Linked DNA regions of Homo sapiens. The protein of the gene in region 4 purifies or fractionates together with the protein of the main gene of each other region. This does not show direct contact. Each region holds a gene or a part of one and is shown on either strand. Other genes may lie near its edges.

Region 1 (2,712 bases), on a different chromosome or scaffold from region 4:
TGACAGGAGTGGAACAGTAGACCCACAAGAATTGCAGAAGGCCCTGACAACAATGGGTAGGTATGGCTTACTAGAACTCTCCATTCATTGGTAGAAGTAAGTTGATTTTTATTTTTAAAACCAGGCTGGGTGCAGTGGCTCACACCTGTAATCCCAGCACTTTGGGAGGCCAAGGAGGGTGGATTGCCTGAGCTCGGGAGTTCGAGACCAGCCTGGGCAACACAGTAAAACCCCGACTCTACTAAAATACAGAAACATTAGCTGGGCGTGGTGGCATGCACCTGCAGTCCCAGCTACTCGGGAGGCTAAGACAGGAGAATCACTTGAACACAGGAGGCAGAGGTTGCTGTGAGCCGAGATCACACCACTGCACTCCAGCCTGGGCGAGAGTGAGACTCCCTCTCGTAAATAAATAAATAAATAAATAATTGCTACCTGAAGGCAGTTTCTGTTTTCTTAGAAATTGTGTGTGTTCATAATTAATATGAGTCTGCAGTCTTAAAAAATAAAATAGTGCTTGATTATTTTATTTTTTAATGAGCTTCTGCAATCCTTTAACCTTTTTACTGGATGGCTTTTCTTTTAGGATTTAGGTTGAGTCCCCAGGCTGTGAATTCAATTGCAAAACGATACAGCACCAATGGAAAGATCACCTTCGACGACTACATCGCCTGCTGCGTCAAACTGAGGGCTCTTACAGGTGAGTTCTATAAGGTCGTGTCATCACCACAAGCCAAGACACAGTTTTTATTACATTTCATCTCTCAGTGCTTCTCAACTTTTATTCTTCCCAAATTTTTTCTTGCTTTAGTAGTTTTTTTCAGATTACTATTAAGCATATCTGGCAAAATAATTTTTTGGTTTTTTTTCCAGAATTTATTTTAGATTAGTAAGTAATCTGCCATTAAAATAAACAATTAAATTTTACTAAAATGTTCTAAAACACAATCAGCTAACTTGTGCATTTTTGATCAGATAATAATGAATTTTTCCCCAGAATGTGAAATATTTGGAAAGAGTGAAATTAAAATAAAATCCTTTTCTATAGGGCAGAGCTGAAATGGTAGAGAAACTGATTACAGCCCATTTGTTATATTGGGGACTCTTTATCTGTTTCTTAAGCAGTATCTTTGTTATTAAGAAGCTAGAAATTCGGTGCTTTTATCACAATGAAGTAATGGCCATGGAAGTTGCACAGCTTTTACTGACTTTGGGTAAGGTATTTTCTCCAGATCTAAAAAAACAAAAAAACAAAAAACACAGCTGGCCAACTTCTGCCTGTTACTTTGTTGCATATTAAATCTTTTACTATTCATATAGTTGGCTTCTTTGCTTTGGTCTTTTGTTTATGTTAATTGGTTGCACAATTTAAATGTTACTGCAATGTGAATTCAATGCCAAAATAACTAACTTTTATGATTTTAGAAAAACCATTTAAAGAAAAACCATAAATTTTACTGTGTTGTTTTACAGACAGCTTTCGAAGACGGGATACTGCTCAGCAAGGTGTTGTGAATTTCCCATATGATGATGTAAGTCTTAGAAATTAAGAGATACAGTAGATGAAAAGGATGTACACCAGATGGGTATCCCTTTGAAATTAGCTGTTAAGAATATCTTAAGGTTAAGGATGCCAGAGACATAAGGGATTCAAAAGTTAGAAAGAGTTATCATCCAGAATTTATTAATTTCATTTATTAGTCTTAACTATAGTGAGACCATGATTTGATTTGCATTCAGAGACCTGGGTTCAAGACCCAGCTTGTTGTATTTATTAGCTGGGTCACTTAAGCAGGTTTCTTAATTGCTGTGACACTATATGAATAAAGAAGATATAGTAGTAATGCCTTTTTCACTGAGCCATTGTAAGATTTCTATTAGAAATGCCCTTGAAAAACACTATGCAGATATACTATCTGCTTTTGTCTTCTGTAAACAAATCATGTCAGTCACTGAGAATAGATAACAGCTCAATAGTTTTGCATACCTATGTTCTTCATTGAGGGCATAAGGCAGGCAACAACTTAAATCACAATTTTTTTTTTTTTTTTGAGATGGAGTCTCGCTCTGTTGCCCAGGTTGGAGTGCAGTGGCGCAATGTCAGCTCACTGCAACCTCCACGTCTCGGGTTCTAGCGATTCTCCTGCCTCAGCCTCCTGAGGGACTATAGGCATGTGCCACCATACCTGGTTAAGTTTTTTTGTATTTTTAGTAGAGACGGGGTTTCACTGTGTTAGCCAGGATGGTCTCGATCTCCTGTCCTTGTGATCTGTCCGCTTAGGCCTCCCAAAGTGCTGGGATTACAGGCGTGAGCCACTGCTCCCGGCTAAATCACAATTTAAAACAAGTTATTTACTAAACAGCCAAACTAAACAAGGGTAGGGTAAGGCCATGTAATCAGTGTGAACATAACCTAGTGCCATCTTTGATGGCATTAGCTGGATGTATATAACAAAGCTAGAGAGATTGGTTACTTGTTTCTTCAGTTTTTGCTCAGCCATTGATTTAAAAACAAAAAACAAACAAACAAAAAAACTTGTAGAATTGAAATGACTGTAATCACTGAATATTCCATTCTCCATTACAAAATATAAGATGCATGTATTTTTGGTTTAGCAGCTGCTGCAGTTATAAGTACACTTTTAAAAGCTTAGTATGTGTGTGTGAATATGCTTATTTTACCTGCTTAAGGGTGTGTTCTCTTTAACATGC
Region 2 (3,500 bases), on a different chromosome or scaffold from region 4:
ACCTGCCTGTTCTTGACAGCAGCTGACGGTTTATCAAAATTAAACTTAGCTGCTTCTTTAATTTTTAGATGAATAGGTGTAATAGGCAGCTGGCATCAAGGCCAAACGTTGGCACCCTTCTTAATGACTATGCTCTTTTCCATTTTTAAGAAAGTTGATTACCAGTTTAAATATTTAAGGAAATACCCAATTGCTTCCTATAGAGTGAAGTGAGAAACTCCTAATAATAATAAAAGACTACTCTTCATAAGTTGAATATTAAAATGAATCCTGCGGATCCACAAGTAACTGTTTACACATGGTTAATCTCTCTCACACTTTAGTTTTCAAAAACTGCAATATGCAGTGGTAGTTCTTACAAATATCACTTGAAATTAACTCAGAATCAGAGAGCTACTCCTGAAAATTAGAAAATCACATCCAAGAATGAATTTTAATGATAATCATTATTTCATATGTGATAGACGGTGGTGATTCCATCTGGGGCAGAAAATGCTGACTGCAAAGTTATATGGCAGAGTAACACTAGGAACTGGGAGTTAGGAGGCTATCTTACAAAGTCAGTTTACACGCATCTAATGCTCCACCAAAAAAACCCATACAAACAAATTCATATTCCAAAGTATCAACCCAGAAAGAGTACAGAAATGATACTTTAAAATTCCCTTCCAGAACTTTCAAAAGGTATTTTTCAAAATTCATCACATTCAGAACACTGGGCATTACTCCTGATTTGGACACTAAATTACGAGAGCAGCATAATCATAGTTTTCTTTCTTTTTATTTTTCCTGGTAGAACCTCACTACAGTAGCTTCAGAATCTGATATGAGTTCCAACTCTGTCTCTTACCTACTAGACTCTGTGATCTTGGGCAAGTTACACCACCTCTGAGAGTCACAATTTCTTCATATTCTCTAATTTAGAGAATGGCGTTAAGTCGAGATAAGATGATCTGAGCTGAAAGCACGGAAATCAGTAGACCCTCACTAGAGGAAAAGCAAGGCACGGGGCAGAGTGGGCAAGGCACAGGCTTAAGGATCAGTAGATCTGGTTTGCTAGCCTGTAAATGTAGCCTCAGACAAATCTGTTAATCTTTTAGCCTCAGTTTCCTCATCTGTAAAATGGGAATATACTCTACGCCTCACATATTATGAAGATTCCATGATATCTAAGGAATGAAATGAATTGAGCTCCCAGCATAGTACCAGGTACAGTGTGGACATTCTCTCCATACCAACATGCTCCACCACCCACCCTTCACAGTAATGCTTTTCTGAGAAAGGCAACAGAAAAAGCATAGGAAAATAAAGCAGGAAAAAGTGATTAAGTATACCCTAAAGTAATGAAAACGCCATTCAGGCCAGGTGCGGTGGCTCACACCTGTAATCCCAGCACTTTGGGAGGCCAAGGCTGGTGCATCACCTGAGGTCAGGAGTTCAAGACCAGCCTGGCCAACATGGTGAAACCCTGTCCCTACTAAAAATAAAAAAAATTAGCCAGGCATGGTGCCAGGTGCCTGCAATCCCAGCTCCTTGGGAGGCTGAGGCAGGAGAATCGCTTGAACCCGGGAGGCAGGGGTGGCAGTGAGCCGAGATTGCCCCCTGCACTTCAGCCTAGGCAGCAGAGTAACACTCTCTCAAAAAAAAAAAAATATATATATATATACCATTTATTGAGTTAAGGATTACTGAGTTTCATACTCTTTAAGCGTTTTACAAAAATAATCTTATTTAATCTTTACAAAAATCTGACAAGGCAGGTACAATTATCCCTACTTTACATAAGATGAAGAAACTAAGGCTCAGAAGGGTTAAGTAACTTACCGAAACTCACAGTGACAGCGCAGTGAAACCAGGATTTATATCCAGGCTTCCAGGAGTACAAAAGCCCAGACTCTTAACCACATGCTACCTGAGTCCCTCACCAGAGGTGGCCTCTACCCTCTAGCTGCCATCTCACTCCTGCCCAGGAGCTACAAGTGCACTGCACACATATCTGCAATATATGGGACTGTTTTATGCCTTTAACATTTACATATACAAATGGTATTATGCCATAATTACGTGTTTGCAACTTGCTTTTTGACTAAATATTGTATTTTTGAGATTCAGCCATGTTAAATACATCTAGATCTAGTTCATTTTAACTACAGTTTAGCTTTCCATCATGTGACTAAAGTTTATTTATCTGGTCTGCTGCTAATAGACCAAGATCCCTTCCTGTCAGTTTTTCATTATTGCAAGCCATGCTGCAATGAACGCGCCAACACAGGTATCCTAACACAGAGGTCCCCAACCTTTTTGGCACCAGGGACTGGTTTTGTGGAAGACAATTTTTCCACGGACCAGGGAAGGGTGGGGATAGCTTCGGGATGAAACGGTTCCACCTCACATCATCAGGCATTAGTTACATTCTCGTAAGGAACGCACAACCTAGATTCCTCACATGTGCAGTTCACAATAGAGTTTGTGCTCCTATGAGAACCTAATGTCGTCACTGATGTGGCAGGAGGCGGAGCTCAGGCGGTAAAGCTCACTTACCCACCGCTTACCTCCTGCTGTAAGTCCTCGATCCCTGGCCTGGGGGTTGGGGACCCATGTCCTAACACACACATGCAGAAGTCAGTCTCTAGGCCAGGGACAGATAAACTATGGTCTTCAGGCCAAATCCAGTCTACTTCGTAATTAAAGCTGTATTTTCATAAATAAAGTTTTATTGAAACTCAGCCTGCTCATTCATCTACATATTGCCCATGACTGACTTCAGGCTATATAACAGCAGAGTTGAATAGATGCAACAAAAACCACACAGCCCACAAAGCCTGACGTACTTAGTCTCTGGCCCTTTACTAGGGTAAGTTTGCAGATCCCCCTCTCTAGAATATATACCTAGGAGTCACGCAGCTGGGTCTTAGGCTCTGTTCACCCATAGCTTGACTGGGTACTGATAGTTACTCCTCCAAAGTGTTGGTACCATTTTATACTCCCATCTGCAGCATACATGTGCACCACACAAGCACATACACACAACTTGTTATCCAACTTTTAAGGTTCACCAGCATGACATGTTTCACTACTGTCTTCAATTCCCTGATACTGAAAAGGTGGAGCGTATTTTCAAATGCTTAATAAACATTCAACAACAGGATATGGTTATTTATTCAACAAATCATTTGAGTCCCTATTCTGTCACTGTTCCAGATGCAAGGACTACAATGATGATCTAAATCGGCAGCAAATGTTTATAATGCCTTTAAGGCCGCAGAGTTTGCAATATAATGATAAATAAAAGCAGTATTTATTTATTTATTAAAATGCTCACTGAAAGCTTGCTTTGCATAAGCGGTACACACAGCACCACAGGCAGTGGCATAAGACATATTCCCTCGTCTCTGGAGGGCAAAATACTATGTATAGACAAGCATGGTCTCAATGTGTTAAAAAAAAAAAAACTGTTAGGAACTAGATCTAAATGTTAATACAATAGTTTCCATAAATTA
Region 3 (3,500 bases), on a different chromosome or scaffold from region 4:
GAGGGGATTTGTCCTCTCAAATCTCATGTTCAAATTTGATCCGCAGTGTTGGAAGTGAGGCCTAATGGGAGGTGTATGGATAATGGGGGTGGATCCCTCATGAATGGCTTGGTGCCTCCTCAGAGTAATGAGTGAGTTCTTGCTGTTAGTTCCCACAAGAACTGATTGTTAAAAAGAGCCTGGGCACCTTCCACCTCTCTCACTTGCTTCCTCTCTCACCCTGTGGCATGCCTGCTCCCCCTTCATCTTTTGGCATGACTGGAAGCTTTCTGAGGTTCTTACCAGAAGCAGATGCCAGCACCATGCTTCTGGTATAGCCTGTAGGACTGTGAGCTAAATAAACCTTTTCTTTATAAATTACCCAGCCTCAGCAGTTCTTTCATAGCAATACTAAGGGCACTAAGGCTCTATATTTTAAATAGCAGTAGTAAAAAGCAATGCATAAAACAATTATTTTCTGGTGAAGTTGTATAAATGACCTCATCTTTATACAGAAAAGAATTACTATTTGTTAAAAACAAACAAAAAAAAACTACCTCATTCTTTACAAATTCGTGACTTGGCAGACTTACCCTGAGGCAAAAATACCATATAGGTTTAAAATTTCAATTATCTCAATAATAAAATGAAAATTTTTAAAAGAAAAATAATGTATAAATTTTCAATCCTTTAAGATAATTTAATCTAAAATAATAATTTTATATTTACATTTAATAATCCCAGACAAAGCCCTCAAGATTTGAAGGATTCTTTTAATGTGCTTTCAAAAAAACACTGAGTCCAGCAATCAATTCTTTTACAGCAAAATACCCATTATAAATTTTAAGTTTTCATTAACATGCCTTATTTCACTTATAAAACATACTTACTGGTATCCACTTAAAAGTTGGTTTCAAATATTCAATTTACCTAGTGGTAATAACTTTAAAAAAAATTCCATGCTTTAGACTTTAACTCTTTGGTCTATTCTCTCCATCTGTGTCATATTAGAGATACTTTGTGGTAACTCAGTGGTATTCTAATAGAAAAATCCTATGACAGTAAGATAATTCAGGTGTCCTTTCAATTGTTAAGCAGCTTAGTTCCGTCGTGGTAGAATGAACACTTAGGAGGGAGTCCCCTATGGATTTACATTAAGGGTGAGTAACTTTCTCCTCCACAAAACAGTAAATAGAAAGTTTTTCTATGTACACAATTTGCAAAATTAGTCTGATCATGAAATTCCTTCATTTTCCAAGACGTAGGAGCTATAGACACATAGATGGAAATATATATTTTTCAGCCTTGTTGATTCACTTAGATCTTCTGAAACAGAATTTAAATAATAAAATAATGTTTTTAAATATGTAAGTTAGTAAAAAGCACTTTTTTAACCATGCTATATATACATATTCACATAAGAAACTTCCCAAGTGAAACGAATATTGTACAGGTATCAGGAGGTACATTTTAAAATAAAGATTCTCATCTTCACCTTGTTTTTGAATTCTCCATTAAAAGCAAACTGGTTTTCTGGTTTTCCATCTGGTACCTTATATAATCTAAACCAATTAAGAGTAGCTTCCAGGTAACCCGGTTTGAACTTCTTAACATCATCAATATCTGTAAAGAAAAAAACAAAAAGATGTTTTGTTAAGAACCAAAATTAATTCCCTTTAGTGGCAGAGCATTGGACTGAGGGAGCCAGGAAACATGGGGCCCAGTCTAACCAGAAGCACAATTGATTGTGATACCTAGAGCAGCATCATCATTGATATGTATATCACCTTCAGACTTTTGTGTTTTCATATGTATAATACTATTCCTGCACTCTACAAACATTTACAAAGCATCTTCAGACAATGTGCTATGTATGGGGAATAAATGGATGGATACAACAAAGTTCTTTTCATCAAGATACTCAGTTTTTAACTCAGGGAAAGAGACAAATAGATAAACTGCAATTAAAATGCAATGAGGTTTTAACAGAGATAAACAGAAGCAATGGTAATGTCATAGAAGAGGGAGTAAAAGAAAGCATTATAAAAGTGAGAAGTACATCACTAACTGGACAAGAGGGGAAAAGGTAGAAGGAACAGCACACATAAAAGCAAGGGACTATATTTTAGAATATACAAAGATGGTTCTGCATGGATAGAACATCACTGTTAGGAGGCAGGGGAGAGGGAGGAGACACCTAGGAAAAGCCAGTCACTGAGGATCATATACACAGCAATCTCCCTTTATCCACGGTTTTGTTTTCTGCAGTTTCAGTTACCTACAGTCAACTGAATCCAGAAATATTAAATGGAAAATTCCAGAAATAAACAATTCATAAGTTTTAAATTGCATACCATTCTGAGTAGCCTGATGAAATCTTGCACTGTCCTGCTCCATCCTGTCCAAGACATGAATCATCCCTTTGCCCAGTGTGGCCACATTCTATATACTACCCACCATTAGTCACTTAGTAGCCTTCTCAGTTAGCAGATCCACTGTCTTGATATGGCAGTGCTTGTGTTCAGTTAACCTTTATTTTGCTTCAGAATGGCCACAAAGCACGAGAGTAGTGGTGCTGGTAATTTTATTACAGTATATTGTCACAGCATATTGTATTGTATACAATATATTTATTAGAGCATATTAAAATTATACTGTTTTGTTATAACAAAACAAACAGGGATGTTTTGCAAAAATTAATTAATATTGAGTTCCTTGAACGAACGGTTTTCTTATTCAGAGGGGAAAAAAATCTTTTAGTCTACTGACGGCGAGTGTCTAGAAATGCAATTTAATCAATGCCCAAGATAAATAATTTTCTAGGCCAGGTGTGGTGGCTCATGTCTGTAATCCCAGCACTTTGGGATCACCTGAGGTCAGGAGTTTGAGACCAGTCTGGCCAACATGGTGAAACCCCATATCTACTAAAAATACAAAAAAAATTAGCTGGACATGGTGGTGATTGCCTATAGTCCAAGCTACTCAGGAGGCTGAGGCAGGAGAAATGCATTAGTCCAGGAGGTGGAGGCTGTAGTCAGCCAAGATCACGCCATTGCACTCCAGCCTGGGCAACAAAGCAATAAATAATTTTCTGTTGCTTAAATCTGATTTATGACTTCATCGTTGTACCTTACTCAAACTAACATTTTCTCTTCCACTGTATATAACTTTTACAAATCATATAACTTTTGTATGATTTTTGTTACTTAACTCACTGACTTCCAAGGAGAAAGAGAAAGCTAATTATCTAATATCTACCTCAGTCTAGGAGGCTTTCTCCCCAAAAGTCATAAAGAGGACCCAATAAGCAAAGACACAAATTAGGAAAAAAACTGAAAATTTTATAATGGAAATAAGAAGTATAACTCTCCAAATATAAGCTAAACTTTTCCATTCTCAACTAATTATACCCTAGGAGAAAACAGCTGCATTGTCCCAAATAACAAAACAAAAAAATTACAGTAAGATATTTAAACATTTTTAAAACCTCAATAGCAAATGCCTGAAGCCAAATTCTTATA
Region 4 (3,500 bases):
CGTCGTGTGTCACAAAGCCCATGTAAATGTGGCAGGGATCTGAACCCCAGTCTGGCACCACCAGCTAGCTCCCCTGTGTTGCTCATTCCCCTGGGGCTGAGATGGAGAACCCAACAGGATTAAGGTGGTGCTCTCATTAGGCTGAACCACATGAAACTGACACCTGTGTAGGTTCAAAAATGGTTGGATATCAGCTGTTTCCTATGGTTCCGGTAACACCAACATTGCTTTGCAGGATTCCATGCAACAGGGACCTTCTGTATTCACCAAACCTCTCTGGAACATCGACTCTGTGCCAGGTACTGAGCTAATCTTCAGGATGCATGAAGAGCAGGGACAGTCCTTGCCCTCAGGCCATCCAAAACAATGCTGGCCCATGGTGAGCCCAAGCGGCTCCAAACCCAATCTGTAGCCATGGGAATGCTCTTCAGAGAGCTCTCTAGGGGCAGTGGTCAGTTTCTTGCACTCTTGAAGGCACAAGAGAAAGGGCTGGGGAGTTCCTGGTTGCTCACGGCTGTTAAGTGCGCAGGCTGCCGAGTCTGAATCCCGGCTGGGTTGTTTCTTGAGACCTTGGGCCAGGTTCCATTTCCTCCTCTGTGCAATGACAGTATCTACTTACACGGGATGTTTGAAAGACTCACACTAGCGTGACCACTGACCAGCCTGCTTTGTGGGGACTCCTCCTCGCATTATACAGAGCTTACCCACAGGCTTCTTGCCTGAGGAAATCCAGCCCACAGGCAGAAGGCTCTGCCCTACCCACTTCTGTTTAATCCCCCTTCCACCCTCAGTTCTCCAAGCTTTGGTCCCTGGAAGAGACTTTCCTTTATGCAGCCCCCGACTCTGCCTTCATTCCACCATCCTCAGGGGCATGGGTAGCCCTGATCAGGACCATCCCTCTGGGTTTTTCTCTCATACTGGGGCCTGCCCCCCAACATTCCACAGTGACCCCCCACACCTCTAGTGTTGGATTGAGAGCTGTTTGGGCAACCAGGGTTCCCAATGAGCTAGGGAGAGTCACTGCCCAAAGCACAGGAGGGGAAGGGCCAGTATTATGGTTCTGCTTAACAGACAAAGTCACCGAGGCAAGTGGAAGTCAAATCTCCTTCCCCACCTCATGCAGTGGCCTTTAAAGGCAAGGTCAGGCTGAGCGGGGAGGGTCACCTGAGCCCAGGAGGTTGAGGCTGCAGTGAGCCATGATTGTGCCACTGCACTCCAGCCTGGGCGGTAGAGCCAGACCCTGTGAAAAGAAGGCAAGGGTAGGGAAAAGGGGGAAAGGAGGGAAGGGAAAGGGAAGGAAAGGAAAGAAAAAAGGAAAGGAAATGAAAGCAAGATAAATTAAAAAAATAAAAGAAAGGTCAAGTCCAGGGCACTGCTCAGGGCGTAGAGGCCGCGCCCCCGACGACCTCCTGCCCCCTTCCCCCGCGTTACCGTCTCGGGGCTCGGGCTCGGTGCCGCGGAACCTGCCAGTGGCTCGGGAGTCCACCACCTGGAAGCGCCGGGATTCCAGGTTCTCCTTGATGTCCTCGTAGGTCTTGATGAAGGCGGGGTCGAGCTGAGCGCGGAACTCGGCGGGAGCAGGTTGGCTCTTGCCGGAGCTGAGCGGGAGGTTCTGGCGCAGCCAGTGGCGGAGGCCGCCATCAAGCAGTGACACGGCGTGGTGGCCGAAGGCGCGGAACATCCACCAGACGCGCGGGGCGGAGTAGAGGCCCTGGTCGCTGGCGTCGTAGATCACGACGTGGGTGGCCGCGCCCACGCCCAGGCGGCCTGCGTACTCCGCGAAATGCTCGGCCCCGGGCAGCATGTGGTCGTAGGGCGAGGTGCGGTCGCTGCACTGGTCGATGTCGAAGAAAGCGGCGCCCGGGATGTGGCGCTCCTCGAACTCGCGTCGCGCGTCGCGCCCCAGCTTCGGCAGGTACCAGGAGGCGTCCAGCAGCTGCAGAGGCTGCCCAGCGCGCGGGGCCCGCAGCGCCTCCGCCACCCATTGCGCCGACACCAGCGCGCGGCAGAGCTGCGGCGAAGCCATGGCGGCGACACTCGGGCTGCGGGCCTGGGCGACAGGGAGGATGTCAGAAGGGAAGCAGGGAGAGGCCGCTGTTGGGGCTAGGGCTGGGGCTGGAGCATGGGCGAGGGCCGGCGGGGGAGGTGCGGCCCGTGCAGGGCAGAGTCCAGGGAACGCAGAAACCAGTGGTGGTGAACCCGGGCACAAAGGTGGGTAGCCAGGGGCCTCCCTCTGCCAGGCCTCATATAAACACAAGCTCCGAGTGACCCAATGACCATGACCTCCCGGAGAGCCCCAGGCCACGCCCCTCACCTCCACTTGCTGGGCAGGAGGGTGGGTGGAGGTATCCTAGGGCAAGGCCCTGCTGGCTTCAAGGCACAAACAGGGGCAAAGTCTCCACCCCTCCCTAAGATGCAGCTCGGCTTTATTTGCAACCAAGTCCCAGACGGAAGTCATTCATTCACTCATCAAGCATTTATATTGGCGACCTAATAGGAACAGTAGCTGGAATTTACTGAGTCCTTGCTGGGTACCACTGAATCCTAACAATATCCTAGAACAATGCCTGACACAGTAGACTCTCCAGTATGTGTTGAATGAGTGATCTTAAGAGGCCTGGTATATTATTGTCACCGTTTCAAGGAGGACACTCAGGCTCACAGAAGTGCACTAACCTGGCCTGGTGCGGTGGCTCACGCTTGTAATCCCAGCACTTTGGGAGGCCCAGGCAGGTGGATCACCTGAGGTCAGAAGTTTGAAACCAGTCTGGCCAACATGGTGAAACCCCGTCTCTACCAAAAATACAAAAAATTAGCCGGGCTTAGTGGAGGGCACCTGTAATCCCAGCTACTCGGGAGGCTGAGGCAGGAGAACTGCTTGAACCCAGGAGGCGGAGGTTGCAGTGAGCCGAGATCGTGCCATTGCAATCCAGCCTGGGGAACAAGAGCAAAACTCTGTCTCAAAAACAAAAAACAAACAAGAAAAAGTGCACTAGCCTGACCCGGCGGTGCCAGGCTTCTCACTAGGCAGTCAGTCTGGCACCAGAATCCGGACTTCTCAGACACACACTCTGTGCAGGCTCCAGGAGTCTGGCGAGGCCAGGTTTTGCCTGTCCAGCCTGGGCTCTCTCTGGCCCTTCTAGCAGCAGCAACAGTGACTTCGCACCTCCCTCCCTCTCCTCTCTATCTTTCCTGCATACCAGAGACAGTGCACCAGCTCGCCAGCCCACTATGCCAGGCCAGCCCACAGCCTTCCTGGGTGTAAACTTCCCAAACACTTTAAGCCCTTTGTGCTGGGAAGCCACCGTTGTGCAGGTGAGAGGAAAGGGCCCCTTCTGCCAGGCAGAGGCTGAGCCCCCACCAGGGCACATGGCTGGGTGTGTGGAGTATGGGCTGCAGATCAGCCCTCACTTATCCCCTGTGTGAGGCCCAACCTTGACACCCACTGCATGCAGTCCTGCCAGCGAAATGAAGGGGGCAGGTAGAGAACAACATCTGTG

What was found. The genes of interacting proteins can lie anywhere in the genome.
Region 1: the proteins of MPST (region 4) and SRI fractionate together in Homo sapiens (co-fractionation; one large-scale study listed by BioGRID). This does not show direct contact.
Region 2: the proteins of MPST (region 4) and GLRX5 fractionate together in Homo sapiens (co-fractionation; one large-scale study listed by BioGRID). This does not show direct contact.
Region 3: the proteins of MPST (region 4) and PPA2 fractionate together in Homo sapiens (co-fractionation; one large-scale study listed by BioGRID). This does not show direct contact.

Annotation. Positions count from the first base shown.
Region 1 is NC_000007.14:88,207,327-88,210,038, reverse strand, and holds part of SRI (sorcin), read left to right. Parts: coding exon 1-56; intron 57-586; coding exon 587-700; intron 701-1,473; coding exon 1,474-1,532; coding exon of another isoform or gene 1,533-1,550; exon of another isoform or gene 1,551-1,844; intron 1,845-2,712. UniProt on the Homo sapiens protein: Calcium-binding protein that modulates excitation-contraction coupling in the heart. Contributes to calcium homeostasis in the heart sarcoplasmic reticulum. Modulates the activity of RYR2 calcium channels.
Region 2 is NC_000014.9:95,538,050-95,541,549, reverse strand, and holds part of GLRX5 (glutaredoxin-related protein 5, mitochondrial precursor), read right to left. Parts: intron 1-3,500.
Region 3 is NC_000004.12:105,397,563-105,401,062, forward strand, and holds part of PPA2 (inorganic pyrophosphatase 2, mitochondrial isoform 1 precursor), read right to left. Parts: intron 1,603-3,500; coding exon 1,475-1,602; intron 1-1,474.
Region 4 is NC_000022.11:37,022,742-37,026,241, reverse strand, and holds part of MPST (3-mercaptopyruvate sulfurtransferase), read right to left. Parts: intron 2,491-3,500; exon of another isoform or gene 2,315-2,490; intron 2,051-2,314; coding exon 1,432-2,050; intron 1-1,431. UniProt on the Homo sapiens protein: Transfer of a sulfur ion to cyanide or to other thiol compounds. Also has weak rhodanese activity. Detoxifies cyanide and is required for thiosulfate biosynthesis. Acts as an antioxidant.